Linked DNA regions of Homo sapiens: regions 2, 3, 4, 5, 6 and 7 are each linked to region 1. Evidence: fine-mapped expression QTL. A gene starts in region 1. Each other region holds a variant in brackets. All regions are shown on one strand. Distances are from middle to middle.

Region 1 (4,066 bases):
TTGTATGTATGTGTGTGCGTGTATGTGTGGCTTGGGGTGACATGGGAAGTGTGAAGGGTGTCCGAAAGAGAGAGATTGGGAAGGAGGGAAATGAGACAGGTTAGTGGGAGATGGATTCTGGGGGCAAGGTTCATGGCATCCCTGGGGGCTCCTCAGGAACTGGTTGAATAATCTGTAGCCCCTGGACACTAGGCGTCTACATTGGACCATTTGCTGTGGTTGTTAGGAGGAGGACAACATTCCTGTTGCAGGAAGTTAGCCGACAACCATCAATGAAGGTCATAAGGATGAGCAGTTCACAAAGCTCCTACACCCTTGTTTCTCATTTAATGTCTGAAAAATCCCTGTAAAGCATAAAACAGACTCACAAAAGGAGGGTCCCAGCCAGGTGCAGTGACTCACGCTTATCATTCCAGCACTTTGGGAGGCTGAAGCGGGAGGGTCCCTTGAGCCCAGGAGTTCAAGACCAGCCTGGGTAACATAGTGAGACTCCATCTCTACAAATAATTCTAGAAATTAGCCAGGCATGGTGGAGTGAGGTGGTGGTCCCAGCAACTTGGGAGGCTAAGGTGAGAGGATCATCTGAGCCAGGGAGGTGGAGGTTACAGTGAGCTGAGATCATGCCACCACTGCACTCTAGCCTGAGCAACAGAGCAAGACCCTGTTTCAAAAAATAATAATAAAGAAGTCCCTTAGCAAAGAAGTGTTGGAGCTAGGGGTTGAGTTCCAAGTCCCCCATAAGGCAAAGGCCACAGGCTTTTTGCCCTGTGTCCCAAGGTAGGGGAACCAGGCAGAGCTGGAATGTGTGCTGTTTGCTTGCCCAAAAACCTATCCAGGCTTACAGGCCAATTGGGAGAAAACATAAAACATCCTCCACAGCCTACATTGAGCCAAACAAAACTTGATTTTGAGGGATTGTGCAGGTGTGGGAAGAGGAAAGACTCTTGTTATGGGAGTCAGGATAGCGGGTTCCACCTCGACTGGGCCCTTGCTGTTTGCGTGTCATTGAATCTCTCTGAAATGCAGTTTCTTCACATATAAAATGTGGATAAAAGCGCCTACCTCCTAGGAATGATGTGAGGACTCAACAAGAGAATGCACGTGTTGTTCTGAATGTAGTACGGTGCACATAGCAAGCACTCAGTACTCCTTAGGTTTTATTATTGCCGTTATTAATACAAAGAGGTTGTGCTGCATGGTTGCTCATTCAGGCCCTGGTGGCTGTTTCCCACCTTCAGCCCTGGCTCCTGTGGCTAGAGCCCTGGTGCCCACAGCTCAACCTGGACCTGTCCACCCTTGAAGGGCTCATGATGCAGCATCAGGGAGTCCCAGATCGAGCCGCTGACACCTCCAAGTCGGCTGCAGCTGTGCATCCGCTCAGACCACAAGACTCAATGGAGGATGCTGACCTCTCTTTGTTCTCCCAACGAGTACTAGGCAAGGAGGGAAGGAAGGTGAGCGCTTAGAAAAAACGTGTTGGTTTCAACTGAAATGACATTAAGCTATCGTGGAGGTAAAGGAGAGGGGTTGAGCCGGTCAGGAATCCAGGCAACCTGACCCTATTTGCCAGTGTCCGCTTTTAATTTTGGTCGCTAAGGGCAAGCGCCCGTGACAAACATGGCGGCGGCAGCCTCAGGCGCAGTCACCTGCCGGAGCTGCGCCCGGGGGCCGCGCGGAGCCAATCGCTGGGCGGGGGCGGAGGGAGAGGCTGGGGAAGCCCTAGAAGTGCGCGCAGGCGCATTGGCTCGCACCTGGCTCCCGCCAGCCGTGGGATTAGGCTTCGCCGGCTACGATTGCGGTGAGACGCTGGCCAGCGGCCGGGGCTCGCGGGCAGGAGCGGGCTGGGCTGGGGCCGATCTGGCACAAACGACAGACCCGAGGGGGAGGGGAATGCTTTGCGCTCTGGGAGTCATGGGGGCTATCTGCGGGGGTCTTTGGGGTGATCATATTGTGGATTGGGAGAGTTGTGTGGTCCGGGCGGAAGAAGCGGGGTTCAAGGGGGCAAGGGTGGAATCCTCGCAGAAAGGCTCTCCGGGGGTCTGGAGGAAAGGGATGCAGTGGGTCAAATAGCTCCCTGGTGGTCTGGGATCGAGGGATGCACTGGTCAGGTCGGGATCCGTGCCATTAGCATAAAGGCATTTAACCCTGGTGGCACTTGGGGAGCTTTGAAAAACACCGATGCTGGGCCCGCCCGAAGAGATTCCGATTTAACTGTTCTGGGTGAGGCCTGGGCCTCGGTATTATTGCACAGCTCCTCAGGTGATTTTAACGTGCAGGCGGTGGGGAGCAGCCCTACACGTGTTTCAGCACCAGCTATTGAGTGAAGAGCTCCTGGGCTGATCCCAAACTCCTCAGTGGCTTGGGAGGGGTGGGTGGTCCTGAGGTGAAGCTGTCGCCTCTTCTGGGACCTGTGGGGGAGGGAGAGGGAGAAGGTCCCCATCTCAACAAGTTGAAAGCTCATTTCCAGCCGGAGGAGGAGGATGGGCCCCCACCCCCCAACCCTGGTGCTAGACCCTGCTGTGGGGAGACTGGGCAGGAAGACAAGACCCCGAGAGTGAAACAGGAAACACAGCAGACAATTCAGGGGTCAGCTGCCTGTTGAGAAAAGGGCACATATTATACCTTTCATGTTCATTTGTTCATTTGGTATTCCTGAGGATAGGCAGAGAATGGAATTGTTTTCTCTGCTTCACAGATGTAGGAATAGACTCAGATAGTAAGTTAAAGATAATGTTCACACCTGACCCAGGGCTCCTGACTCCAAATTATGCCTCTTCTTAGCTTTTACCTCTGCACTAATGTCTCTTGTACAGTCTGATACCTCTCACTCCAGGGGCCCAGTTCGGCATTCTTGGTTTCCGCCACTAAATTCATCAACCTCCCCCACCCACCATAGGTTGGTTCAGAAATCAGGGAGATGTTGCTGCTTCCATCCCTTTCTAGTCTTTACCTACCAGGGGCCTGGTAGGGTGAAGGGGAAGAGTTTTGACACCTGCTAGAGGGCTTCTTCCAAACAGATCTGTCACTTCCCCACCCCCAGCGCCCCACCTGTTGTCCTCAGCATAGAATCTTGCACAAGGTTTACAAAACCCTTCCTGATGTGGCCCCTTTCTCCCGCGCTGCTCTGAGCTCTCTTCCCAGATTGTTTCTGTGTCTCTTAGCACAGTGCTGTGCACCCGGCGAAAGCTTAATAAATGTTCCTCTGTTATGATCACTATTCTTCTTTGTACCTGCTGCCTTGCTTTAGTGTCTTACTCAGAGAGGCACATCAAGCCTCCCAGGCTGCCCCTTCTCTCTGACTCCCACAGTTAAGCAGAACACAGAGCTAGGAGGGGCACAGTGGGGTCTGAAGATGACAGTTTTCCTATGACTGCTGCTGCTGTTCCCTAGGGCTGAGGATGTTGTTGATATTGACCTTTTAGGGGCCAATCGACCCAGCAGGGATTGACTGAGCAAGCTGAGGGAGCCTGGTGGAGGCAAAGGGCAGGGATCAAGGGCGGGACTAACCCAGCCCTGCTTTTTTTTTTTTTTTTTTTAAGAGACGGAGTCTCACTCTGTCCTCCAGGCTGGAGTGCAGTGGCGCGATTTCGGCTCACTGCAAGCTCCTCCTCCCGGGTTCACGCTATTCTGCCTCAGCCTCCCGAGTAAGCTGGTACTACAGGCGTGCCCGCCACCACGCCTGGCTAATTTTTGTATTTTTAGTAGAGAGGAGGTTTCATCGTGTTAGCCAGGATGATCTCGATCTCCTGACCTCGTGATTCGCCCGCGTCGGCCTCCCCAAGTGCTGGGATTACAGGCGTGAGCCACCGCGCCCGGTATCAGCCCTGCTTTTAAGAAGCCTGTGGGCTGGAGGAGGGGAAGGGAGGCATTTGGATGCCTGATAAGGGGGAAAACGGGAGAGAACACGTGATTGGGTGTGCTTGGGAAAGCCGTGACACTGGATGAGCAGGATTTGATAAGATGGGGGCAGGGTGTGGGGGGGATGATGAAGTGAGAACGCTGTTGTTTTAGTCAAAACCTGTTTTGAATCTTGACTCCAGCACCTACTAGCTTTGTAACTTGGGCC
Region 2 (4,066 bases), 99 kb after region 1:
CAGTAAGAGAGACATTTCTGTCCTATGTCCTTTAAAGATGAACCAAAACCTCCACAGAACCGCCCTCATTGGTGTCCCCTTTGCATCTCATTGGCTAGAGTTAGGTCAAGGATGATATTGGCTGGGAATGGGCCTGGCTCGCAGAAGGGAATGGCCAGGAAAAGGCAGAAAACCAAAATTGGGGTTCTGTTAGTAAGGAGGGGAATGCCCATCGTGTGGGCAAAACACTCCCCACCTAAGAAGCCCCAGCCCTGCCTGGGATCAGAGGAACCTTGCCTATTGATCAGGACACTGGGCCTGGGAAGAGAATGTTCCAGTCACGAGGACAGGATGGCTGTCATTTCACCTGCTATGGCAGATTTACAAACAAATCTAGCCTGTGGCATGAGTCGTTTGGAAAGTTTTGCAATAAATGTATCAGTAACTTCACCAGTAGACACATCCATGTCTGTCTGTCCTACTTTGCAGCCAGTTTTTCTTACTTCCCTGTTCCCCTTTCATTTTACGATCAGTTTATTCTTTTCAGATTGCCAGTTACTCTTCCCCTGCCCCCCATCCTCTGGGTTTCATTAGAAAGAAACCATTCCCCAACTCAACAGGGCTTGATTTCTGAACTGTGCTTTAGAATTCTGCTGGAGAGGCTATCTGCTCTCAGTTCTGCCATTGGTAGGCTTTAACCACAAATTCCAAGGCAATTTCATTTGCGTTTTTAGGAAAAACGTATCTCCCCAACCTTGTAACTGACACTGGAAATTGAAGTGCCTTCACTTGCTGCTGTTTAATGGCAACCTCATGACATGTGCTCAGTTGGCTCGATTTGTGAGTGGCTCGATTTCTGAGTGCTGGGATGGCACTGCATGAGTAGGGATCTCTCCCAGGCCATCAGAGCTCATGGCTGATCCAACCCTGTGGTACTGACAGACTCTAATGCTAACAGAGATTTTTTTTTGTTTTCACATTTTCTTCCCTTTCCCCTGTTTACAAAAGAAATACTTGCTCATTATAAAATTGAAACTTAGAAATTTAAAATCTGACACAGAAGGTGAAAGTCCTTCATAATTCATTCCCTCACAGAGAAAACTTTGGTGTTCCTCTTTCCAGGTTTTGTTTGCCATGCGTATGTCTGGATAGAATTTGCAGTATTTTGACCAGGCGCAGTGGCTCACACCTGTAATCCCAGCACTTTGGGAGGCTGAGATGGGTGGATCACTTGAGGTCAGGAGTTTGAGACCAGCCTGGCCAACATGATGAAACCCCATCTCTGCTAAAAAAAAAATACAAAAATTAGCCAGGTGTGGTGGTACATGCCTGTAGTCCCAGCTACTTGGGAGGCTGAGGCACGAGAATTGCTTGAACCTGGGAGGCGGAGGTTGCAGTGAGCTGGGAGCACGCCACTGCACTCCAGCATGGGTGATAGAGCAAGACTCAGTCTCAAAAAAAAAGAACTTGCAGTATTTTGTAAAAATGGACTATGCTTTTCATACTGTTTTTCACCTTGCTTTTTTAACTTACTATCATTTGGACATCTGTCAGGATGTTCTTTTTAACGCGACACTTTTTTAATACCTACATATACTGTACTTTATTTAACCAGTCTTCTATTGTTAGACATTTGGGTCATTTCTAATTTTTTCCTTTCACAAAGCTGCAGTGAGCGTCCTCGTATATGTACATCTTTGTATTCTTACCGAAGTATTTCTTTTTTTTTTTGATGAGATGGAGATTTACTCTTGTTGCCCAGGCTGGAGTGCAATGGCGCGATCTCGGCTCACCGCATCCTCCGCCTCCCAGGTTCTCCTCCCAGCGATTTTCCTGCCTCAGCCTCCCGAGTAGCTGGGATTATAGGCATGTGCCACCACACCCGGCTAATTTTGTATTTTTAGTAGAGA[C/T]GGGGTTTCACCGTGTTGCCCAGGCTGATCTCGAACTCCTGACCTCAGGTGATCCGCCCGCCTTGGCCTCCCAAAGTGCTGGGATTACAGGCATAAGCAACTGCACCCAGCCTTACCGGAGTATTTCTTCAGGATAAATTCCTTTAAATGGGATCACTTAGCCAGGTGTGGAGAAATTAACCTTTACATGTTAATAACCATTGCTAAAGGATTTTTAAAGTGAGGAGGAATTAGATAAATTAATATGTTATTAAAATAATACTATTGGGGCCATCCAGTAAATGTTATCGTTATTTTCAACAAACAATAGAAGGATCATTATATAAAAGTGGTTGTTTTTGTTTGTGTGTTTTGTTTGAGACAGAGTCTCGCTCTGTCACCCAGGCTGGAGTGCAGTGGTATGATCTTGGCTCACTGCAAGCTCCACCTCCCAGGCTCAAGTGATTCTCCTGCCTCAGCCTCCTGAGTAGCTGGGATTACAGATGTGAGCCACTGCACCGAGCCTAGTGTTTTTATAGCAACAAAATACTTTACTGAGTCCTTGAGAATAGGTCCCCCTTCTTAGGTTCCTTGGCCAGAGAGATTGGTTCATACACACTATGTGGCATGCATTTAGGGTTAGGAAAGACCAGCAAGCTTTTTTTTTTTTTTTTTTTGAGATGGGATCTCACTCTGTTGCTCAGACCGGAGTCCAGTGGTACGATTATGGCTCACTGCAGCTTTGACCTCCCGAGCTCAGTTGATCCTCTTATCTCAGCCTCCCAAGTAGCTGGGACTACAGGTGCATGCCACCACACCCGGCTAATTTTTAAATTTTTTGTGGAGACAGGATTTCGCCATGTTGCCCAGGCTGGTCTTGAACTCCTGGGCTCAAGTGATCTGCCCATGTTGGCCTCCCAAAGTGGAGGGATTATAGGCATGACCCACTGCGCCTGGCTAGCAAACCTTATACAGTGTGTTGCACAGTTTAGAGTTCCAGGAATCCATCCATCATGCTTCCTGTCTCTGAAGTTGGAAGTGCTGAGGGACACAGCCTGCCTCTGTAAGTCAGAGAGACTTTTCCAGATATTGACAGCAAGTCATGTTTTACATAAGGAACCTCAATGCATTGTAGAGTTTTCTTGGGGTTTGCCTCCTCTTGCCTTCCCAAAAGTTAACAGATGTGATTCAGTCTTTTCCTGTTGAGGCCCTTTTTTAAAACTTGCTTTTCTATGCCAGGTGCGGTGGCTCACGCCTGTAATCCCAGCACTTTGGGAGGCCCAGGTGGGTGGATCACGAGGTCAAGAGGTTGAGATCATCCTGGCCAACATGGTGGAACCACGTCTCTACTAAAAATATAAAAATTTAGCTGGGTGTGGTGGCACGCACCTGTAGTCCCAGCTATCGGGAGGCTGAGGCAGGAGAATTGCTTGAACCTGGGAGGCAGAGGTTGCAGTGAGCCGAGATCGCGCCGCTACAGTCTAGCCTGGGCAACAGAGCGAGACTCTGTCTCAAAAACAACAACAACAACAACAACAACAGCAACAACAAAACTTGCTTTTCTATAGTTAAAAGTAAGTAAATAAAACAGTAGGTATTGGCTGGCTGTGGTGGCTCACACCTGTAATCCCAGCACTTTGGGAGGCTGAAGCAGTTGGATCACTTGAGGCCAGGAGTTCAAGACCAGGCTGGACAACATGGTGAAACCTCATCTCTACTGAAAATACAAAAATTAGCTGAGAATGATGGTGCATATCTGTAATCCCAGCTACTCAGGAGGCTGAGGCATGAGAATTGCTTGAACCTAGGAGGCGGAGGTTGCAGTGAGCTGAGATCGTGCCATTGCACTCTAGCCTGGGCGACAGAGTGAGACTCCGTCTCAAAAAAACAAAACAGTAGATATTGAGCACCAATATCATAGGTACTTACCTTCTCTTATTTAACCTGTGCGGTGGGTAGCGTGGTGAGGAAGATACTGGTTCATATTGCCCCTTTTCAGATGAGGCGATAGGGAGGTGATGGGCCCTGGAGAACTTCCTATAGCTGCTGAGTGGCAAGAGCAAGCCTCCAGGGACAGTCTAACCAGCCTGCTCTGCGTGCTCCAGCCTCTCAGCCGCCAAGGGTCCATTTTAGATGAAGAGAGAGGACTTGGGGAAAAGGAGCTTTTTCATCAGTTATATTTATTTTATTTAAGTGCC
Region 3 (4,066 bases), 110 kb after region 1:
AATAAGTAATTATGTTAGAAAGCAAGATGTTCAGCATAAGATTAGAAAGATACAAATATATGGCCAGGCGTTGTGGCTCACATTTGTAGTGCCAGCTGTTTGAGAGGCTAAGACGAGAGGATTGCTTGAGCCCAGGAATTTGAGCCTGCAGTGAGCTGTAATTGTGCCACTACACTCTAGCCTGAGTGACACAGTGAGACCTTGTCTCTAAAACAGTAATAAAATAAATAAAAGATACAAATATAAAATCAAATAAGTAAAAATGTTATATTCTTAAATTTGGATTCTAATTAGCAAGATGAACAAAAGATGTGTTTTCTCTTTCTTTTAAAAAAAATGTATTTTATCTTCGTCACTAAAAAAGCCTTGAAACAGGCCGGGCACAGTGGCTCCTGTAATCCCAGCACTTTGGGAGGCCAAGGCAGGCGGATCATGAGGTCAGGAGTTCAAGACCAGCCTAGCCAATATGGTGAAACCCTGTCTGTACTAAAAATACAAAAAATTAGCCCGGCATGGTGGCATGCACCTGTAGTCCCAGCTACTCAGGAGGCTGAGGCAGGAGAATCACTTGAACCCGGGAGGCGGAGGTTGCAGTGAGCTGAGATTGAGCCACTGCACTCCAGCCTGGGTGACAGAGCAAGACTCTGTCTCAAAAAAAAAAAAAAATTAGGCATGGTGGTGTGCCTGTAGTCTTAGCTACTCGGGAAGCTGAGGTGGAAGGATTGCTTGAGCCTAGGAGGTTAAGGCTACAGTGAGCCATAATGGTGCCACCACACTCCAGCCTGGGAAACAGAGCAAGACCTTGTCTCAAAATTTTTTTAAAAAGCTAGCCTGGTTGAAAATGCCAGTGGTGCCATTTTAGTTGCCAGCCAAGGATGGCTCCTAATGTTCTAGTCCATTTTCTGCTGCTTATAACAGAATATCTGAAACTGCTAATTTATAAAGAAAAGGAATTTATTTCTTACAGTTATGGAGGCTGAGAAGTCCAAGGTTAAAGGGCCCCATCTGATGAAGGCCTTCTTGCTGGTGAGGAGTCCCTGCAGAGTCCCAGGGACATCACATGGCAAGGAGGCTGAACTTGCTAGCTCAGGTCTCTATTCTGATAAACCCACCAGTTTCTACCCCCATTGTCCACCTCTGTGATAATCCATTAACTTATTAATCTATATATGAGGGCAGGGCCCACATGACCCAATCACCTCTTAAAGGCCCCACCTCTCAATACTGCTAGATTGGAGACTGAGTTTCAACATACCTTTTGAAGGAGGCAGACATTCAAATCATACCACCTAGCTTCCTGGCATGTCCAGATTAGTGCCACTGCATTTGGAGTGATGCCACAGTAGCCAGTGTGATGGCTGCTGGTGCCACATAGCAGAGGGGTCAAGGAGGAGGATCATCTTTCCAACATTAAGTATATAGATAATACATAAATAAATTTCAGATTTTTTTTTGGAAACGGGGTCTCTGTTGGCCAGGCTGGAGTGCAGAGGCGTGATCTTGGCTCACTGCAGCCTCAACCTCCCGGGCTCAAGTGATCCTCCCACCTTAGCCTCTGAGTGGCTGGGTCTACTGGCACATGCCACCATACCCCGCTAATTTTTCTGTGTTTTTTTTTTTTTGTAGAGATGGGGTCTTGGTATGTTGTCCAGGCTGGTCTTGAACTTCTGGACTGAAGTGATCCACCCACCTCAGCCTCCCAAAGTGCTGGGATTACAGGCATGAGGTACTGCAACTGACCTCAGATGTTAAAAACTTAGACTATACAGATAAAGTCAAAGTTCTCTGTGACCACCCCACCCAATCTCAGGGCCCTCGCTAAAGAAACCCTCTTTATCCATTTGGTGTGCGTCCTTGCAGCTTGCCAGATTTTTTTCTATGTATTCACCTTCTTCTGGGTACCTATGAAATGGTTTGGGTTTCTATGTTTTTTTTTCTTTCTTTAATGTAAATGAAACTGTACTGCCCTTCACAATTGGATTTTTCAGTTGACGGTATGTCTTGAAGATCTTTATTTAATTTTTTTTACTGTTGTCTGTGATTTTATTGTATGAATAAACCATAATTTAACTATTCCCCTGGTGATGCACCTTTAGGTTGTTGCCATTTTTGCAGTATTACAAACAGTACAAAGATGCAGTGACCATCCTTATTCATTCCTCCTTGTGACATGTTTTGCTCTAGGGTAGATATTTATAAGTAGAATGATTGGGTCAAAGGGAAGTTACCTTTTATATTAATAGATTCTGCCATTTGGTCCTCCA[A/C]AGTGACCATACTAGTTTATAGGTCCATGGCAACTAAATGTTTTGTTTTGTTTTGCAGTGACAGGGTCTTTCTCTGTTGCCCAGGTTGGAGTGCAATGGTACAATTATAGCTCACTGTAACCTGGAATGCTTTGGCTCAAATGATCCTCAAGCCTCAGCCTCCCAAGTAGCTGTGGAACTACAAGTGTGCACCACCATGCCTGACTAATTTTTAAATTTTTTTGTAGAGACAGGGTCTCACTGTGTTGCCCAGGCTGGTCTTGAACTCCTGGTCTGAAGCGACCTTCCTGCCTCAGCTGTGGGATTGCAGGTGTGAATCACTGTACCCAGTCTAAATGGGTTTTCATTCCTGATTTAACTGGTCTCTTCAGGAAGAAGATGGGAGGAGTAGAAGCATGTCCTGGATTTTTTCTTTTCTTTTTTTTTTTTTTTTGAGATGGAGTCTCACCCTGTTGCCCAGTCTGGAGTGCAGTGGCACCATCTTGGCTCACTGCAACCTCCGCCTCCCAGGTTCAAACGATTCTCCTGCCTCAGCCTCCTGAGTAGCTGGCATTATAGGCGTCCACTAACACGCCAAGCTAATTTTTGTATTTTTAGTAGAGACAGGGTTTCACCATGTTGGCCAGGCTAGTCTTGGATTTTAAAGCTTCAAAGGATTTCCTGGGATTTTTTTTTCTTGTTTCTTTTTTTTTGGAAATGGAGTCTCACGTCTTACTCTGTCACCCAGGAGTGCAGTGGTGTGATCATGGGTCACTGCAGCCTCCCTCTCCCAGGGCTTAAGTGATCCTCCCACTTCAGCCTCTGGGACCACAGGCATGTGCCACCACACCTGGCTAAATTTTGTATTTTTTGCAGAGGCAGGGTTTTGCCATGTTGCCAAGGATGGTATCAAACTCCTGTGCTCAAGTGATCCACCTACCTCAGCCTCCCAAAGTGCTAGGATTACAGGCGTGAGCCACTGCACCCAGCCCTCCTGGCATTCTTTGGTTGAAATGTATATAGGACTACGAGTTGTTTTTTTTTTTTTTTTGAGACGTAGTCTCGCTCTGTTGCCCAGGCTGGAGTGCAGTGGCACGATCCCGGCTCACTGCAAGCTCCGCCTCCCGGATTCACGCCATTCTCCTGTTTGAGCCTCCTGAGTAGCTGGGACTACAGGTGCCCACCACCATGCCCGGCTAATTTTTTTGTATTTTTAGTAGAGATGGGGTTTCACCATGTTAGCCAGGATGGTCTCCATCTCCTGACCTCGTGATCTGCCCGCCTCGGCCTCCCAAAGTGCTGGGATTACAGGCGTGAGCCACCGTGCCTGGCCAGGACTACGAGTTTAAAACCTCCTTAGTCCCTTTGGCTTTAAGAACAAAGAGGCTGGTGGCTCATGCCTGTAATCCCAGTACTTTGGGAGGCCGAGGCGGGTGAATCACGAGGTCAGGAGATCGAGACCATCCTGGCTAACATGGTGAAACCCCGTCTCTACTAAAAATACAAAAAAATTAGCTGGGCGTGGTGGTGGGCGCTTGTAATCCCAGCTACTCGGGATCGCGCCACTGCACTCCAGCCTGGGCGACAAAGCGAGACTCCGTCTCAAAAAAAAAAACAAAAACAAAAAACAAAGAACAAAGAGGCTTGGGGCCAGGCATGATGGCTCATGCCTGTAATTCCAGAACTTTGGGAGGCCGAGGTGGGTGGATCACTTGAAGTCAGGAGTTCGAGACCAGCCTGGCCAACATGGTGAAACCCCATCTCTACTAAAAATACAAAAATTAGTCTGGGTGCAGTGGCACCTGTAACCCCAGCACTTTGGG
Region 4 (4,066 bases), 28 kb after region 1:
GTTCCCTTGTTTGTAAAATGAGATAATACTACCTATATCTCATAGGAATGGTGTTAAGATTAAATCTGAATATGCCTGAAAATCAAATGGCTCCAGCACTCTTGGCAGTGATCATCGTCCTCCTCATCATCTCTAGGGTAGGAGTTTGACACAGCTTTGCATACCCTACAGGAGTGCCCTACACACAGGATCCTCACCTCCTCTGAGAAAGTCTGCAGCTGGTCCTTAGAATAGACATATTGCCAAATGCGTTCCATGTCGTTCCAATCCTTGACGATGCCATGCTCCATGGGATAGCGGATTGAAAGCAGCCCTCGGTGCTCCTGGGAAAAGAGAACAGGACTTACGACTGCAGTCAGGCTCCACCCAGGACCCTGTTCTCCCAAGACTAAGCAGTGCAAGCTGAATCCCTTGCAAAGAAGCCTCAGCTTCCTGAGCTTCCACCCTGCTGTCCTTGCCCAGGGCTAAGGGTGGGCACTCATTCTCCAAGGCTAAATACTGTTTGCTGCAAACTGCCCTCATTCCCGAGGAGCCGGCAAAGCAGGGGCTTCTGCATTTCCATGGCCCCTCAGGTGCCTCTAGGGCAAGTGGCAGGAGGCATCTTCCTCATTGCCTGGTTCCAGGACACAATCTCCTGGCTCCCACCTCTGGGCCTCAGCACTTGAAGCCAAGGATGGCAACAGCGATTCTGCTATCTGCTTACAAGAGGCTGCATGAGGGCTCTGACAAAGCTGTGTGAATTAACTCATCCCTAGGGTACCCCAGCCAGGATCTCCCCACTGAATATTTTTTGTGAAAAAAATAATAAACACAGTAAATTTGATCACTGACAAGGCAGTGACAGGATGCAGAAGACAACAGCCCTGTTTCCTAGACTGGTCTCAGTGTGTCCCAAAGTGAGGTCCCAGGTATTTTCTTCTCCAAGACCACAGGCTGTTCCTGGGAAAAATAAACCACCTAAGCCTAGGATGAGAGAATCAAAAAGGAGATTTTCAGAGAAAGTTGCCCCTTTTACTTATGGGTATGTCCAAATGTTGGGACATGTTCCATGTGGTGAATAATGAAGGTCCTCTGCTGGCTTAAGGCTTGTTCTGTAGGCCTGGGAATTACCTCAGCTTTGGGGCCAATGAAGATGTCGCCTTCAAGGGCTCCTGCCATGACACGAACGTGCTTGGGTCGGCCCACACTAGAAAAGACAGTGAGGAGGACCATCATTTTTCATTTCATGACAGAACACAGGAAGGATGTATAGATGTACATACACACTCAAATTCTACTGAGATTATCTTCAAGGAGTGAAGTCACAGTTGATTTTGATTTTCTTCTTTATACTTTTCTGTATTTTCCACAATTTCTAAAATGAACATGTATTATTTATATATTATTTCATATTTTATATTTATTATAAATTATGAAAACAAATTTTTAGAGTATTTAATACCTCTAGTTCTTCTCTTTCTGCAGTGTATGAACAGACCAAGAAAGATGAGGAAATGAGAATTTCTAAAGGAGTGATTAACTCAAAACATTTTAGTGTCCTTAGTCCCCTTCCCAGGACCTCTAAGTAAAACTGATGCTGGGCTGGGCTCGATGGCTCACACCTATAATCCCAGCACTTTGGGAGGCTGAGGCAGGTGGATCATTTGAGGTCAAGAGTTTGAGACCAGCCTGGCCAACATGGTGAAACCCCATCTCTACTAAAAATACAAACATTAGCTGGGCGTGATGGCACATGCCTATAATCCCAGCTACTTGGGAGGCTGAGGCACGAGAATCGCTTGAACCTGCAAGGCAGGAGTTGCAGTGAGCCGAGATTGCGCCACTGCACTCCAGCCTGGGCTACAGAATGAGACTCCATCTCAGAAAACAAAAAAAACTGTGATGCTATAGATCGGACAGATAGCCTCTTCCTTTCCTCCCCCTTTAAGCCCTTCCTGTAAGCCTCTGTGCTCTTCTCCTGCCTGCAGTCTCTCTGTCTTAGGAGGAAAGTTCTGAGAAACTCCTCATTAAGATGGTAGAAGGGCTGTAATCCCAGCACTTTGGGAGGCCGAGGCAGGCAGACCATGAGGTCAGGAGATCAAGACCATCCTGGCTAATACGGTGAAATCCCATCTCTACTAAAAATACAA[A/T]AAAATTAGCCAGGCACGGTGGCAGGCGCCTGTAGTCCCAGCTACTCGGGAGGCTGAGGCAGAATGGTGTGAACCCGGGATGCAGAGCTTGCAGTAAGCCAAGATCACACCACTGCACTCCAGCCTGGGCAACACAGCGAGACTCCGTCTCAAAAAAAAAAAAAAAAAAAAAAAGATGGTAGATGGGTTAAATGTTAATCCCCAGCCTGGGTGATAGGAGAATTTTAAAAGGAGGGCTCCACCAAGAGGCAATCCTCCAAAGCAATAAGTTACCAATGATAAAATTTTTTAGCATCAGATAAAATTGGATTTTTAAAAAGAGGCCTCTTATCTGTGCCTCTCAAATTGTACCATGTAGACAACTGTTTTCCTTTGTTGACTCCAAACTCGGCTCCTGTCCCTTATAGGGCTGGGCCTGTAACAAAGCTGATGAGCCTCCAAAACGTCTAAGCTACAGAATGACTTACTAGTTTGGAAAGCAGTATTTGGGGATCTGATCACCAGCAAAACCAGCTTTAATCACACCGGATCCCTGAGGAAAGAGGAGAGAGAATGAGGAGTCAGAACTATCACAAATACAAAAGGAAAAATACATTATATGGTACCATTTTTATTTAAGAAAAGAAAGCGGCCGGGCGCAGTGGCTCACACTTGTAATCCCAACACTTTGGGAGGCAGAGGCAGGCGGATCACTTGAGGTCAGGAGTTTGAGACCAGCCTAGCCACCATGGTGAAAGCCTGTCTCTAGTAAAAATGCAACAATTAGCTGGGCATGTTGGCAGGCACCTGTAGTTCCAGCTACTTGGGAGGCTGAGGTGGGAGAATCACTTGAATCTGGGAGGCAGAGGTTGCAGTGAGCCAAGATTGTGCCACTGCACTCCAGCCTGGGTGACAGACTCTGTCTCACAGGAAAAAAAAAACAAAACTAATATTTGTATATAATATATACATTTATTTGAACCTAGAAAAAGGTAAATGCACACCAAAAGAAGGGAAGTGGAAATAGGATGGTGAGGAGGATTCTCACTGTATACACAACCGTATGTGTGATTTTTCTGTAGTCTCTGACTTTTCTACATTGAACATGTTTTGCTTTGGGAATTAAAAATACTAGTAATAAAGGGAAGAAAAAGACAGAAAACCTGGGGAAAGAAGAAAGTACCTAGAAGCATCAAAGCAGCCAAGTTCAGGAACATAAGGTAGGAAAAGCACATGACTCCTTGTTACGCCACCCTGGGGTGCTTTTAACCTACTTTCCCAGCTCAGGCCTGAACTCTCCCAGCTTCCAGGGCCTCTGTGACAGACACCGCCATGAGCACTGTCATGCTTGAAATGGACTCCCATGGAACACGTGCTGTCTGGTTCTTATTGCAAGGGCAGAGCACGATGCTTTGGGAGATTTTTGTTGTTGTTTTCTTTTTAACTATGCTTTCCTTTTACTCCTTGGTCTCCTGATGGTAAAGAGAAGCAAAGACTAAAGCCTACTCTGAGAATAGAAGAGAACCACAGTCCTGCTGCTCCAACACTTGGTATGTCGAGTGAGGTGTCCAGAAAAGAATCTGAGTTCTCCCAGCATCTCAGGTACCACCCAGGGCCCAATCAATGTAAACAGTGACTCTGGACACAGAGACCAACCCTGTGCAGGACAGATGTCAAGGCTTAGTATTGCTTGTAGATACACCCTGTCCTCTTCCTTTTTTTTGAGATGGAGTCTCGCTCTGTCGCCCAGGCTGGAGTGCAGTGGTGCAATCTGGGCTCACTGCAAGCTCTGCCTCCCAGGTTCATGCCATTCTCCTGCCTCAGCCTCCTGAGTAGCTGGGACTACAGGTGCCCACCAGCATGCCTGGCTAATTTTTTTTTTTTTTTTTTAGTAGAGACAGGGTTTCACCGTGTTAGCCAGGATGATCTCGATCTCCTGACCTCGTGATCCGCCCGCC
Region 5 (4,066 bases), 76 kb after region 1:
GTAGCCACCGTGGCTGGCCTGGCATTCCTTGCTTCAAAGACCAATGGAAGCATCCAGGCCACCCCCAGAGGAAGGGGCCTGACCTTGGGCCTCTCTTGCCATGTCCTTGGCATATGCATATGAACACTTAGCAACAGACTATGTGAAGCCTTGCACGCTAGACCTGCAGATACAGTAGTGACCAAGATACAACCCTGCCCTTGTGGGGTTTATAGTCTAGGCTGGAGATGATGATGATGATGATGATGATGATGATGATGATGATGTTGTTGATGATTTTAAGACAGAGTCTTGCTCTGTCTCGCTTCGGTTAGAGTGCAGTGGCACCATCTCAGCTCACTAGAGCCTCTGTTTCCTGGGTTCAAGAGATTCTCCTGTCTCAGCCTCCTAAGTAGCTGGGACTACAGGCGCCCACCAACACACCCGGTAATTTTGTATTTTTAGTGGAGACGGTTTCACCATGTTGGCCAGGCTGGTCTGAAACTCCTGACCTCAGGTGATCCACCTGCCTCGGCCTCCCAAAGTGCTGGGATTACAGGCGTGAGCGTGAGCCACTGTGCCTGGCCAGGAGATTATAAATGGTAGAAAATTTTGGAAAATACAAAGAAGTTTGAAAAACAAAAATTATACTGTAGTAGCCACTATAATAATTTTATTGCTTTTTTTTTTTTTTTTTTTGAGACAGAACCTCACTCTGTTGCCAGGCTGGAGTGCAGTGGTGCAATCTCGGCGCACTGCAACCTCCGCCTCCCGGGTTCAAGCAATTCTCCTGCCTCAGCATCCCGAGTAGCTGGGACTACAGGCGCCTGCCACTACACCTGGCTAATTTTTGTATTTTTAGTAGAGACAGGGTTTCACCATGTTGGCCAGGATGGTCTCGATCTCTTGACCTCGTGATCCACCTGCCTCGGCCTCCCAAAGTGTTGAGATTTCAGGCGTGAGCCACCATGCCTGGCCTGCATTTTCTTTTTCCCTTATATATTTTACTCACATTTAAAATTTCGTATTTACATCAACATTTTGAATCATACTTTATGTTGAATTTTGTTTTGTGTTTTTTCATAACTACTTATTTGTGGCATAATGTACATAACTTATCTTTTTCTTAAATTATTATACTTTTTGAGATGGAGTCTTACTCTGTTGCCCAGGCTAGAGTGCAGTGGTGTGATCTTAGCTCACGGCAACTTCTGCCTCCTGGGCTCCACTGATCCTCCTGCCTCAGCCTCCCGAATAGCTGGGACTGCAGGCATGTGCCACCAAACCCAGCTAATTTTTGTATTTTTAGCAGAGAGAGGGTTTCACTGTGTTGGCCAGGCTGGTCTTGAATTCCTGACCTCAGGTGATCTGCCCGCGTTGGTCTCTCAAAGTGCTGGGATTACAGGCATGAGCCACTGCACCCAGCCTACATAATTTAAATTTACCTTTTTTTTTTTTTTTTTTTTTGAGTCAAGGTCTTGCTCTGTCACTCAGGCTGCAGTGCAGTGGTGCAGCCACAACTTACTGCAGCCTGGACCTCCCAGACTCAGTGATTCTTCTGCTACAGACTCCGAGTAGCTGGGACCACAGCTGCACACCACCATGGCCAGCTAATTTTTAAATTGCTTGTAGAGATGGGATGTCCTTATGTTGCCCAGGTTGGTCGCAGACTCCTGGGCTCAAGCAGTCCTCCCACCTTGGACTCCTATAGTGCTGGGATTATAGGCATGATCCACTGCACCCAGCCCAAAATTTACCATTTTAACCATTTTTAGATTTACAGTTCAGTGGAATTAAGTACATTTACCTTGTTGTGCAACCATAACCACCTTCCACTTTCAGAAACACTCTGTACCCCTTAAACAATAACTCCCCCTTCTCACTTCCTCCAAACCCTGGCAACCACCATCTTATTTCTGTCTCTATGAATGTGACTACTCTGGGTACTTCATATAAGTGGAATCATATGACATTTGTCCCTTTGTGCCTGGCTTATTTCACTTAGCATAATGTCTTCAGGGTTCATCCATGTTGTAGCAGATGTCAGAATTTTCTTCCTTTTTAAAGGCTAATATTCCATTATATGTGTATACCAATTTGGCTTGTCCATCCATCTATTGACTGACTCTTGGGTTGCTTCTACCTTTTGACTATTGCTAATAATGCTACTCTGAACATCAGTATACAAATTTCTATTCAAGACCCTGCTTTCAGTTCTTTTGGATATATACCTGGAAGTAGAATTGCTGGATCATGTGGCAATTCTATGTTTAATTTTTGAGGAACCGCCATACTGTTTTCCATAGCAGCTGTATCATCTTACATTTCCACCAGCAATGTGTAAGGGTCC[T/C]AATTTCATGACCATTGTGAAAGGAGTTTATTTTTATGCTATAGTGAATAATAGGTGAACAGAAAACATTAGAGGCTATAGAGTGGGGTTCTGATGTAAAGTTCCTGTTCCTCTTTACCAGTAAGAGGTGGAAAGAGAACCCCTCACCTCTCAAAGATTAGTCCCTCTGCTTTCAGAACCATTGTTTTTAGTGACTTGTAATGTCCTACCACATAATGTGCCAGAACTCATATAATACCGCTACTTGTAGAACAGTTAGATTGTTTCTAGATTTTTTATTCTTATAAATACTACTGAATATACTTATGCAAGAGGCTTTTTTTTTTCCAAATGTAAGATTATTCCCTTAGGTAAATTAGCAGAACTGGAAACTGCTACTGTAAGTAATCACTGACACTAAGATCTACTGTGTTCCAGGTGCTGTTCTAAGTGTTTTCTATATTATATGTTAACTCATTTTAGTAGCTACCATATGGAAACTACAATTATCTTCGTTTTTGAAAAAAGACTTTTTTAGAGCCGTTTTAGGTTCTCAGCAAAATTGAGCAGAAAGTACAGAGAGCTACCACACACCCTCTGCTTACCACACGCATGCATGCACACACACACATGTATGCAGCCTCTCCCGCTGTCAACATCCTTACCCAGATTGGTACATTTGTTACAGTCAGTGAACCTACGTTGACACATCATCACCACCCAAAGTTCATAGTTTACATTAGAAGTGAGAAGGTATATAAGTGAAATGTAGATAAGAAGAGAAGTAAACTCTTCTTATCTACATTTTACAGATGAAGAAACTGAGGTACAGAGAGGCTAAGTGATTTGCCAAGGGTCACACAGCCAGGAAGGGTGGCAGAGCTAGGATTTGGGCATAGGCAGCCTGGCTTCAGAGACTGTGCTCTGGCACTGCTGACATTTTGGTGGCTCTTGATGCATATTCAGTGCTTTTTAAGTGTGGCAGTGTTTTGCTTTGTGCGGGTCAGACAGTGGACACTTCAGGATCGGTTGACCAACTGTCCCCATTTGCCTGGGCTTTTCCTGGTATGTGGGGCTTTCAGTTCTAAAGCCAGAAAAGTCCTGGGCAAACAAGACAAGTTGGTCACCCTGCTTCAGTGACTCCAGAGTCTTTTTTAGTAACTTAATTGTCACATCTCTTAGATGCCTTCAAATGTTTCCTCAATCTTTCTGTTTTTCATGACCTTTTGAAGAGTACAGGTCAGTTATTTTATAGAATGTCCTTCAATTTGGATTTATCTGATGTTTCCTCATGCGTAGGATCAGTGTATGTATTTCTCCATAGGAATATCACAGACATGTTGTGCCCTTCTTAGTGATCATATCAGGAGGCACTTGATGTTGATTTGTCTAATTACTGTTGATGATGTCTAATTACTTTGATTGTTTGGTTAAGGTGGTGTCTGCTAGGTTTCTCTTCTGTATAGTTACTGCTTTTCCATTAATAATTAATAAGTAACTTGTGGGAAGGCATTTTGAGGCTATGTCAGTATCTTGTTTCTCATCAGATTTTTTACCCACTATTTTTACCACCCGTTGATGATTCTTGCCTGAATTATTATTACAATAGTTGTCAAATGGTGACTTCTCATTTGATAATTGTTTCTACATTCATTCATTGATATTGAGATTTTACTGTAAGGAAGAGTCTTCTCCATATTTACTTACTTATTCATTTATTTATATCAATGTATTAGGGCTCTCTAGGAAAAACAATTG
Region 6 (4,066 bases), 630 kb after region 1:
CAACTTAGTGTTACTGTAACACAACTCAAGACGCCAACATTCTAAACTTAACCTCGAAGAGATTCAAGAAGGTTAAACAAGATAACCTCTCATATTTATTCAAATTCTGGAGTTCTGTGAAATATCTGAATATTCTATGGGAAGGAAGTATCCAAATATCAAGGCCTGCCTTTTGACCACCTCTGACTTCCTGAATACAAAGTAATGGTTTATCAAAGACGACTGATTCAAAGCTGGTCATTTAGATATAAATTACACCAAAGATTTATGAATGGCTTACAACTCTTGTCAGTCCAGACATGTAGCTCCTGTGCGAGTTCAGGAATCACCAAAAAAGTTCGCCACCCTTGCCGTTTCTTTGATTTTAAAATGTCCCCAAAAATGTGATCTCCAATATACAAAATGTCTTTTCCCTTGGCTCCCAACAGGTCACAGATCGTATCAGAAGAACCTGAACCAACAGAGTGAACAATGAGAAAACTGTCCCTATATTAAAATCAGCATTCCAATAGTATTTAACCATTAAATACTATGATTCATTTTATTCTTATATGAGGAACAGACTAGGAAGAATAGACAAAGACTCACCATTCTCTTTTTACTGCCTTCTAAGACAAGGCCTTCAGCTCCACTGTGCTGACCAGAGCTCTTGCTCACCAAATCCAAGAGCAACAAAACTACATCCTCAGCTTAGTGAAAATAACCTTCAAAACAGCCACTGCCAATTTCATCACAAATCTGCCATTAAGCTGGCTTTACTCAACTGTTTATAACTCCAACATACTATGTACCTATACCCATGGAACTCCTTGAGAAACCCTTGAGAACATATTGAGAAGTACCCCCAAGTGATTCGAAGCACTGAGAAAAAGCCTCCAATAGGATTTAAAAAAAAAACTGATCATTTTAGTGAAAATCAGATTCATTAGGATATACTAACAACTGCTCAAACCCAGACTCCTATTGCATTAAGAGGTGACTAAACTATTTACCTTCAGTAGATGACATCTTAGACTACTAAACAGTATATGTGGCACTTTGCTGAGAGATTACCAAAGCTTTCACTGTGAGGTCTGAGCAAAGACATTAAATAAAGGGAAGTCTGTGACTTACCTCCTGAGTAGACGATACCATGCTGTAGGGGCCCTGTGTAGGTACCAATTTTCAGCTTGCCAGTTTTCTGTATGAAGAATATGGATTTTGTAATACTTTATCATCCTATCACAATCCTCCCCTCACCCCACAACCCTCCCATCCCACCCCCCACCACCAGTGCTACTTGGCCAGACAGCCAAATGAATGGCACTTACTCTTTTCAATTAGTGGGTTTGTTTGACTGTTTCAGTTAAGACCAAAACTCTTAATTTCAAAAGAGAGATACGGCTAATTAAAAAAAAAAAATTCCTGTTTCCTTATGTAGAGTAAGAGTGGGGGAAGGAGAAACATTAAGGACAATGTGCTAGCAAGACAGATCATTCTCATGACTTACAGTATCCACCTGACGCAGTACTGTGCCTTCTCCAAAAAAGAGTGGTTTCCGTGCATCCACCAAGATCAAGTCAAAGTAGGACTGCCATGGTCGATGGGAGCTCCCAGGCTGGTGAAGGAGAAACAGCAAAAGTTGAAACATCACTCCTTACCTTAAGGCATTACTATTTAATCTCACTCAGATGCAAGGAATATAAAAATACTAAGTATAGCCAGAAGATCCCACTATTTTATTTTTTAAAAAGGTATTGTGTCAGCCAGGCACAGTGGCTCACACCTGTAATCCCAGTACTTTGGGAGGCCGAGGCGGGCAGATCACAAGGTCCGGAAATCAAGACCATCCTGGCCAACATGGTGAAAACCTGTCTCTACTAAAACTACAAAAATTAGCCGGGCGTGGTGGCGGGCGCCTGTAGTCCCAGCTACTTGGGAGGCTGAGGCTCGAGAATCGCTTGAACCTAGGAGGGGGAGGTTGCAGTGAGCCGAGATCGTGCCACTGCACTCCAGCTTGGCAACAGAGCAAGACTCCATCT[C/CAA]AAAAAAAAAAAAAAAATTGTGTCTATGTATTATAAGCCATATCCTTTGGGAAGCAGACAAGATATAAATAATAAATAACTGTAATAACACATTCTATACATTAAATCATTTCATCTACTACTAAATTACAATACTTATTTTACAGCACTTTATGAAAGTGTGCTCACCTGAAATTTGCTAAAAGGAGCTCAAAAGAGCTAGGGAGAGATGCAAATCAATACCCAAGGGACAGATTAAGACAGAGGCAGGCATCAGAGCTAAAGTATACAAACTAACATGGAACTATTAGGAAATTTTACTGGTTACATTCTCAGAATGATGGCTCTAGGTACACACTGGCTTTTGGCTCACAGTGTAAGCTAATCACAATACTGAGTTATGCCCATTAAAATCATGACTATCCTGAAATGGAACCCTGGCATTAACCTTTTAAGACCAACCTGAAGGGCACTGCACACTGTGATTTCAGGTGTTCTCAAAACAGGGATTTGCTGATGTTTATTCACTAAAGTCTAGGACTAAAATTCTGTAAGTATGTGACTAAGTTGCAAGGAGTATTCCTTAAACCTAAGTGCAGCCGTACTGCAGAAATGAAGACTTCTCTGCTAAATATCAAGGCTGAGTGCTCTCTTGGCAAAAACTTAGCAACAACTAATACAAAATCTAGAAGTTGTCAAGAATACACATACATTTTCTGTTTCTGTTAATCAAATATCATCCACAACCTGAAAATTCCTTTCATTGCCACACAAACTTAATTTTGCATAGAACTTCTTGGGCATAAAATTATTCTGATCCCATCCTACTAAATATCACATGAATATCCCTTTTATTTCTGTCTATTAAGTATTCAAGTTGCGGACTCTAAATTAGCAATTTGATTTTAAATTCTACTAGCTCCTGGATTACTTCTAATGTTAATGAAGATTAGACAATAGGCTTAAAAAGTAGGACTTTTCTGGGTGGGTTCTGACCAATTCTTTCCCCCTTAATATTCCAGAATGATTAAATGCATTCATTGTTATTAAAGCAGTGGTCTATTGAGTCACATACGGTACCTTGGGGCCATGTGGGAAGTCAAACAGGTAAGTCATAATTTTCTGGAAAAAAAAATTTAACATAAGGTCCATATACTACTTTTGCAAAAGGTATATAACCTAAAGAAATTACAAGCTTTTCACAAAACATGTCTTTTTCAACATAGGACTCACCACATTCTTGTTTCCTCTAAATTTTATGAAATCATGGCAGTGGAAGCCAGAAATTAATGCTTTACCATATACCAAAAAGAAAAAAAGGCTTCTGACATTCTCAGGGAGGATACATACTTCCTCTGGAAGATGTTTTTGAACACACATTTGGAGGAAAGGAGCATATGAGGTAGGGGTATAGAGAAAACTAATGACTCACACAGAAATAACCTATCACCTTGGCTTCGCTACTGCCATCCCTAGACCAACTAAGTCAACAAACCAACGGTTTATGTAAGACTGTTTACTACAAATCACCAGGTGTCTAAATCAAGTTTACATGTACAGCGAATTGGGGGAAGTGGAACTTCTTGCCAGTACTATAAATTTTTAAGTGTCTCAGCAAAAGTAAGATGAAGTTAAGGAGTTAGATCAGTTTTTCCACATGCTTTAATCATGGGAAAAAACTGTTTTTAAGAGGTAGTAAATTTTGGGCTGGGCACAGTGACTCACGCCTGTAATCCCAGCACTTTGGGAGGCCAAGGTGGGTGGATCACGAGGTCAGGAGTTCAAGACCAGCCTGTCCAAGATGTTAAAACCTCGTCTCTACTAAAAATACAAAAAAATTAGCCAGGCGCAGTGGCAGGTGCCTGTAATCCCAGCTACTTGGGAGGCTGAGGCAGGAGAATTGCTTGAACCCAGGCGGCAGAGGTTGCAGTGAGCCGAGATCGCACCACTGCACCCCAGCCTGGGCGACAGAGTGAGACTCTGTCTCAAAAAAAAAAAAAAAAAAAAAAAAAAGATATATAAATTTTGACAGCTAAGAGCCAAAACATCTGTGCAGCATCTATTGC
Region 7 (4,066 bases), 170 kb after region 1:
TTGAGGTTTGACTCTGGACCCTGGCTGTGCCCCTAGGTGGAGACAGCCCTCTTTCTCACCTACCCCCTGCCGCACAGCCCAGCAGGAGGGAGGCGGACAGCCAGATGCAGAGCGAGTGGATGCACTTCCCAGCTCATCTCTGGAAGCCTTTGCTACTCAAGCTCCTCTGGCCGCGGAACAATTCCTCTGATCATGTTTGGTTTTCTTCTTCCTTATTTTATTTTGTAGAAACCGGGTGGTATTTTATTGCTCTGCAAAGATGTCCAGAAGCCATGTATATAATGTTTTTTAAACAGAACTTCATTCCCCGTTGAACTTTCGCATTCTCTGACAGAGGCCTAGGGCTGTATCTCTCCCTGGGCTGCCACCAGAGAAGGTGCTTGGTGTTCGCCTGCCAGCCCAGAGCCCTGGAGGAGCCGGCTGCACAGAGAGGCTTTTCTTCCCAGCTGGGCCTGGTGGAGCCCGGGGCAGGGGGAGAGTAGAGACACTCCCTTGTGCAGCTTTGAGCCTAGTTTAGCTGGGGCCAGGGAGGGGTGCTACTGTTTTCCAAGTGAATGGGTCTCAAAGACTTGGTGACCCCAGCCTCATCTTCTAGGCCTTTTCCACCCAACCAGGCCTACCTGGGAGAGGGTGAGGTTCAGCACATCACACACCATCCCCACTGTCATTCAGGGCCTGGGTCTCCAGCTCTGTAACCAGTCCTGTCCCATTTCCTCAGTCCCTGGGCCTCCCAGCCTTCAGGCTGTAGGGCTGCCTTACTAAAATTGAAAAATCCACCTCTTAACATCTCTTTCACTTTGGTTTTGCTAACACTGCTCTCTGCTGCCCTCCCATCCTCCCTGTATCCATTCATGCCCTATCTTTCATTCTCCACTCCTAATCCCTCTCCTTTCTGGCATCCTGGCCTCTCGTGGTCCTCAGCCCCTCACCCCCAGTACTGCAGATCTCACAGTTTGCCTTCCAGAAGCCAGCCTATCTCTAGCCCATGGTTTTGGAGTTCCTCTCGGGTTATCTCCCACGCCTGACCTGGAACCAGCAAGCCCCTTTCCTGCCTTCTTACCCCCAACTCTAGGGATGGGACTGTTACAATACTTCAAGATCACTCTTTACACCTCTTCAAAGCAAAGTCATGACAATGCAGGGCTCCTCATTGCTCCCATCTGCCTCTGCTGCACACACAGGCACCAGCAGGGATGCCACAGGAGTGCCCACAGGGTGCAGGACTCCACTGATGAGAGATCCAGCCAAAGAGCTGCCCCCAGGGGTATGAGGGCACCAGCTGGGTTCTCCAGGGAGCAGGAGTTGGACCTCCATGGAGCCACTAGGCCTGGCCTCCTCTACACATCCCCAGGGCTATCTGGTTAATTCCATCAAGCTCAGAGTTAAAAGGCATATCAGCCTGGAGTATTTGGGAGAGACTGGCTGCAGATCCCCGCCAGCCAAGATGCAAGCCACTCGGGACCTGATGTCGGCAGCTGTGCCTCTACTGCCCTGAGGACTTACCAGAGGGAGCCCTACTGGCCTTCCCCCACCACAGCAGCCCTGCCTGTGAAGCTCTTGTTTCTGACATTTCACAGGCAGAGAGGTGCCATCAGTTCGCCTCCATTCCTTGCCACCATGACCAGCCTCTCCCTGAACTCTCTCTTGCTCGGGACCTGCCTGAGGGCTCCCTGCTGCAGTTCGCCGTACTTCCATCTGCTGGGTGCCTCCATCGTTGGTTGGGTGGGGATGGGGCATTTTCTGAGCTAAGCTTTGTCATTAGTTTGTGAAGCACCTGGTCAGCAACCTGCCCCAGACCTGGAGGGTCTTTGTGGACTGAAGGTAGACACCAGCCAGCATGGTGGCCCTGTTCTGGGGGAGCAGGGTAAGGCAGGAGGAAGTGGGTGAGCTCCGAGATGATGAGCACATGAAGCCTGTGGCCCCTTCGTACCTGCAATATGTCAGGAGCCTCACGCTCACCCAAGATCCTGCAGGGGCCAGGCTCCATCTCACTGGCTCTGAGGGCAGGACAGGGTATCACACATTTCTCACCAGGCCTCCTTTCCTATGGGCATTGGTGCCTCCCAGAGGTTTCTTGGGCTGCTGGCTGGTGAGAGAGGACCCTTAAAGAAGATCAAGCCAAGCTGACCTTGGACCCTGTCCAGCACAGCTTCTGGCACAGGATGCTTGGTGAATGTACCCTTTCTTTCCCTCCCTGCAGCTCTGAGGGAGCCCCTGACCTTGTAGTGGGTGGAGGAGGTAAGGGGCCTCCCTCCCTAAATCTGCCTCTTCTGCAAGCTACTTGGAGACTTGCCTAGTTGTACCCACCCCTCCAGGTCCCTGGTGCTAGAGCTTCTGAGAAGGGCCTTTCCCTTTCCTCTTTGCCTGCTATATAAGGCAGG[C/T]TCCTGTGGCTCTGCTGGCTCAGTGTGGGCTGCAGGAGGACTGCAGACTCAGCTGCAATTCTGAGGGGGGTTTGGGAGGCTTGTGCGAGGTCTCAGGCCTGTGTGGGGAGCTGGTGCCTCTTCCTGCCCGTATCTTTCTCTTCCAAGGGCAGTGCTCCAAGGCAGGGACTGGAGAAGCCAAGGGGAGAGTCTAAAAGGGCTAGAGCATTTTTAAAAATAGACACAGGGTCTTGGGACTGGGGTTTCGGATTGAGTTGCAAGCAGGGAGAAAACCTGAAGGTCGGTGCCCCTATGGGGCTGACCAGTAGAGAATTTCCTTTACTGTATTTTTGTGTCTGGTCTTCCCTTTCTGGCTTCTAGGACATCCATGCCAGGTGAGGTGCCTGGGTCCCTGTTACAAGTCAGGAGCCCTGTAGGGAGACCCCTCCTTTTGTACAAGTACCTGAATGCTGCGACAAGCAGATTTTTGTAAAATTTTATATTAGTTTTTAATGTCAGTGGCGACTCGGTTCCTGGGGCTGCAGCCAGCCTGGGACTTTTGTAAGAATTTTTGGGTGACTCACTTAGATGTCGTTTCCTTCTTGCCCCCTCTTCCTCTCTGTAATCTAAGTGCATTAAACATCTTTGCAGAAGTGCCTGGGTTGTGTGCTCATTTCTGGCTGCCTGAAGTAGTGGAGCCGGAAGCCCGGGGCCCTGGCAGAGGGAGTGGGTTGTTGTTAGCCACTTAGAAGCCAGGATGGAGGGAGGCCCCCAGGATTGTTGTCGAGAGTGGAGGAGGTGCCAGAGAGTGGGATCACACAGCTGGTGGCTCTTCAGTCTTGAAGAAATGACCTTGCAAGGACAGGCTCTCCCTCACTGGTCCTGAATTCCTCTAAGGTCAAGGGGGTGGGAGCGAGGAGCAGTCTGGGGAGATGAGGCGGTGGGAAAAGACCCTCTCCCTGCCACTACATCCCTCTTCTATCCTCCTCTCACCAAAAACCCCTTTTGCCTTAGGAAGAGGGGCCCAGACAGGTGAGGAGGGCAGGCCCTCCTCATCTCCTTTGGAGTCCTTGCCCGGCTTCCAGCTCCTCTCACATGACATCTAAATTCCACCTCCTAATCCAGGGCCCAGGGGCAGGATCCAGATAGAAGGGCAATTCAGAACCGGTGGCACCCACTGGGTGACACAGAGGCCAGCCCACCCGCCCTAGCAACTCCACTGGGCCTGGCAGTGGAGGGAGGTATCAGGTATATCTTCCTTTCCTGGACTGCCCAGCTCCTGCCTCTCCAGGGCTGGGGGGCAGCAAAACAGCCCAACGCCCAGTGTGGGGAGGCACTGAGCTGGGGGAGAAGGCACTAGCCTGGCAGGCAGGATAAGGGCTGCGCCCAGACAGAGTTCTTGGAACCTGTGACCACCTGGGCCCTCACATATTCATTCCCTTCTGGTTTTCTATCCTGGATAGTGGCAGGGGATTTGGCTGGGGCTGGGGGCTGGGGCGGAGGTCCTAGGACATCATAAGCAAGGGAGAGGGGGTGTCAGCTCCTATGAGGGGGTTCTTATGTCCTGTCCCTTCTGTGAGACCTAGCCATGTGGGGGGCCTTTGCTGAGAGGTCCGCACTCCTTCCCCTGCAGCCTCTTACTGAACTCTCCAACGGAGCAGTGCAGCAGGTCCTGTCTGGGGCCCTCATGCCCTTTCCCTTTTCTC

Evidence for each region. PIP is the estimated chance that this variant, and not a neighbour inherited with it, causes the effect. A credible set is the group of variants that fine-mapping cannot tell apart.
Region 2: its variant is the best candidate, but not a certain one, in a credible set for the expression of SLC68A1 in whole blood (INTERVAL, PIP 0.52).
Region 3: its variant is the best candidate, but not a certain one, in a credible set for the expression of SLC68A1 in prefrontal cortex (GTEx, PIP 0.64).
Region 4: its variant is the best candidate, but not a certain one, in a credible set for the expression of SLC68A1 in whole blood (INTERVAL, PIP 0.70).
Region 5: its variant is the best candidate, but not a certain one, in a credible set for the expression of SLC68A1 in whole blood (TOPMed, PIP 0.57).
Region 6: its variant is the best candidate, but not a certain one, in a credible set for the expression of SLC68A1 in prefrontal cortex (BrainSeq, PIP 0.72).
Region 7: its variant is the best candidate, but not a certain one, in a credible set for the expression of SLC68A1 in whole blood (INTERVAL, PIP 0.83).

The regions. Positions count from the first base shown.
Region 1 is chr10:102,459,653-102,463,718 of GRCh38, forward strand. SLC68A1 (solute carrier family 68 member 1) reads left to right here and starts at 1,743. Exons shown (of 10, transcript NM_024789.4): 1 at 1,743-1,798. LOC124902493 (a long non-coding RNA gene) reads right to left here. Exons shown (of 3, transcript XR_007062270.1): 3 at 1,141-2,408. RefSeq lists enhancers at 1,262-1,331, 1,459-2,142, 2,143-2,825 and a silencer at 1,602-1,821.
Region 2 is chr10:102,559,142-102,563,207 of GRCh38, forward strand. The region is part of intron 3 of SUFU (SUFU negative regulator of hedgehog signaling); the gene reads left to right. Among named protein-coding and RNA genes, the nearest start is that of SUFU, 57 kb to the left of the region's middle. The variant C/T (reference allele first, on the strand shown) is at 1,890.
Region 3 is chr10:102,574,405-102,578,470 of GRCh38, forward strand. The region is part of intron 3 of SUFU (SUFU negative regulator of hedgehog signaling); the gene reads left to right. Among named protein-coding and RNA genes, the nearest start is that of TRIM8-DT, 67 kb to the right of the region's middle. The variant A/C (reference allele first, on the strand shown) is at 2,265.
Region 4 is chr10:102,487,953-102,492,018 of GRCh38, forward strand. ACTR1A (actin related protein 1A) reads right to left here. Exons shown (of 11, transcript NM_005736.4): 2 at 2,597-2,661; 3 at 1,111-1,186; 4 at 198-323. Among named protein-coding and RNA genes, the nearest start is that of ACTR1A, 13 kb to the right of the region's middle. The variant A/T (reference allele first, on the strand shown) is at 2,130.
Region 5 is chr10:102,535,705-102,539,770 of GRCh38, forward strand. All of the region lies in intron 2 of SUFU (SUFU negative regulator of hedgehog signaling), which reads left to right. Among named protein-coding and RNA genes, the nearest start is that of SUFU, 34 kb to the left of the region's middle. RefSeq lists an enhancer at 1,473-1,632. The variant T/C (reference allele first, on the strand shown) is at 2,330.
Region 6 is chr10:103,092,859-103,096,924 of GRCh38, forward strand. NT5C2 (5'-nucleotidase, cytosolic II) reads right to left here. Exons shown (of 19, transcript NM_001351169.2): 12 at 3,081-3,122; 13 at 1,490-1,597; 14 at 1,114-1,180; 15 at 281-451. Among named protein-coding and RNA genes, the nearest start is that of NT5C2, 98 kb to the right of the region's middle. The variant C/CAA (reference allele first, on the strand shown) is at 2,022.
Region 7 is chr10:102,630,442-102,634,507 of GRCh38, forward strand. SUFU (SUFU negative regulator of hedgehog signaling) reads left to right here. Exons shown (of 12, transcript NM_016169.4): 12 at 1-3,094. Among named protein-coding and RNA genes, the nearest start is that of TRIM8-DT, 11 kb to the right of the region's middle. RefSeq lists enhancers at 1,119-1,866, 1,867-2,612. The variant C/T (reference allele first, on the strand shown) is at 2,382.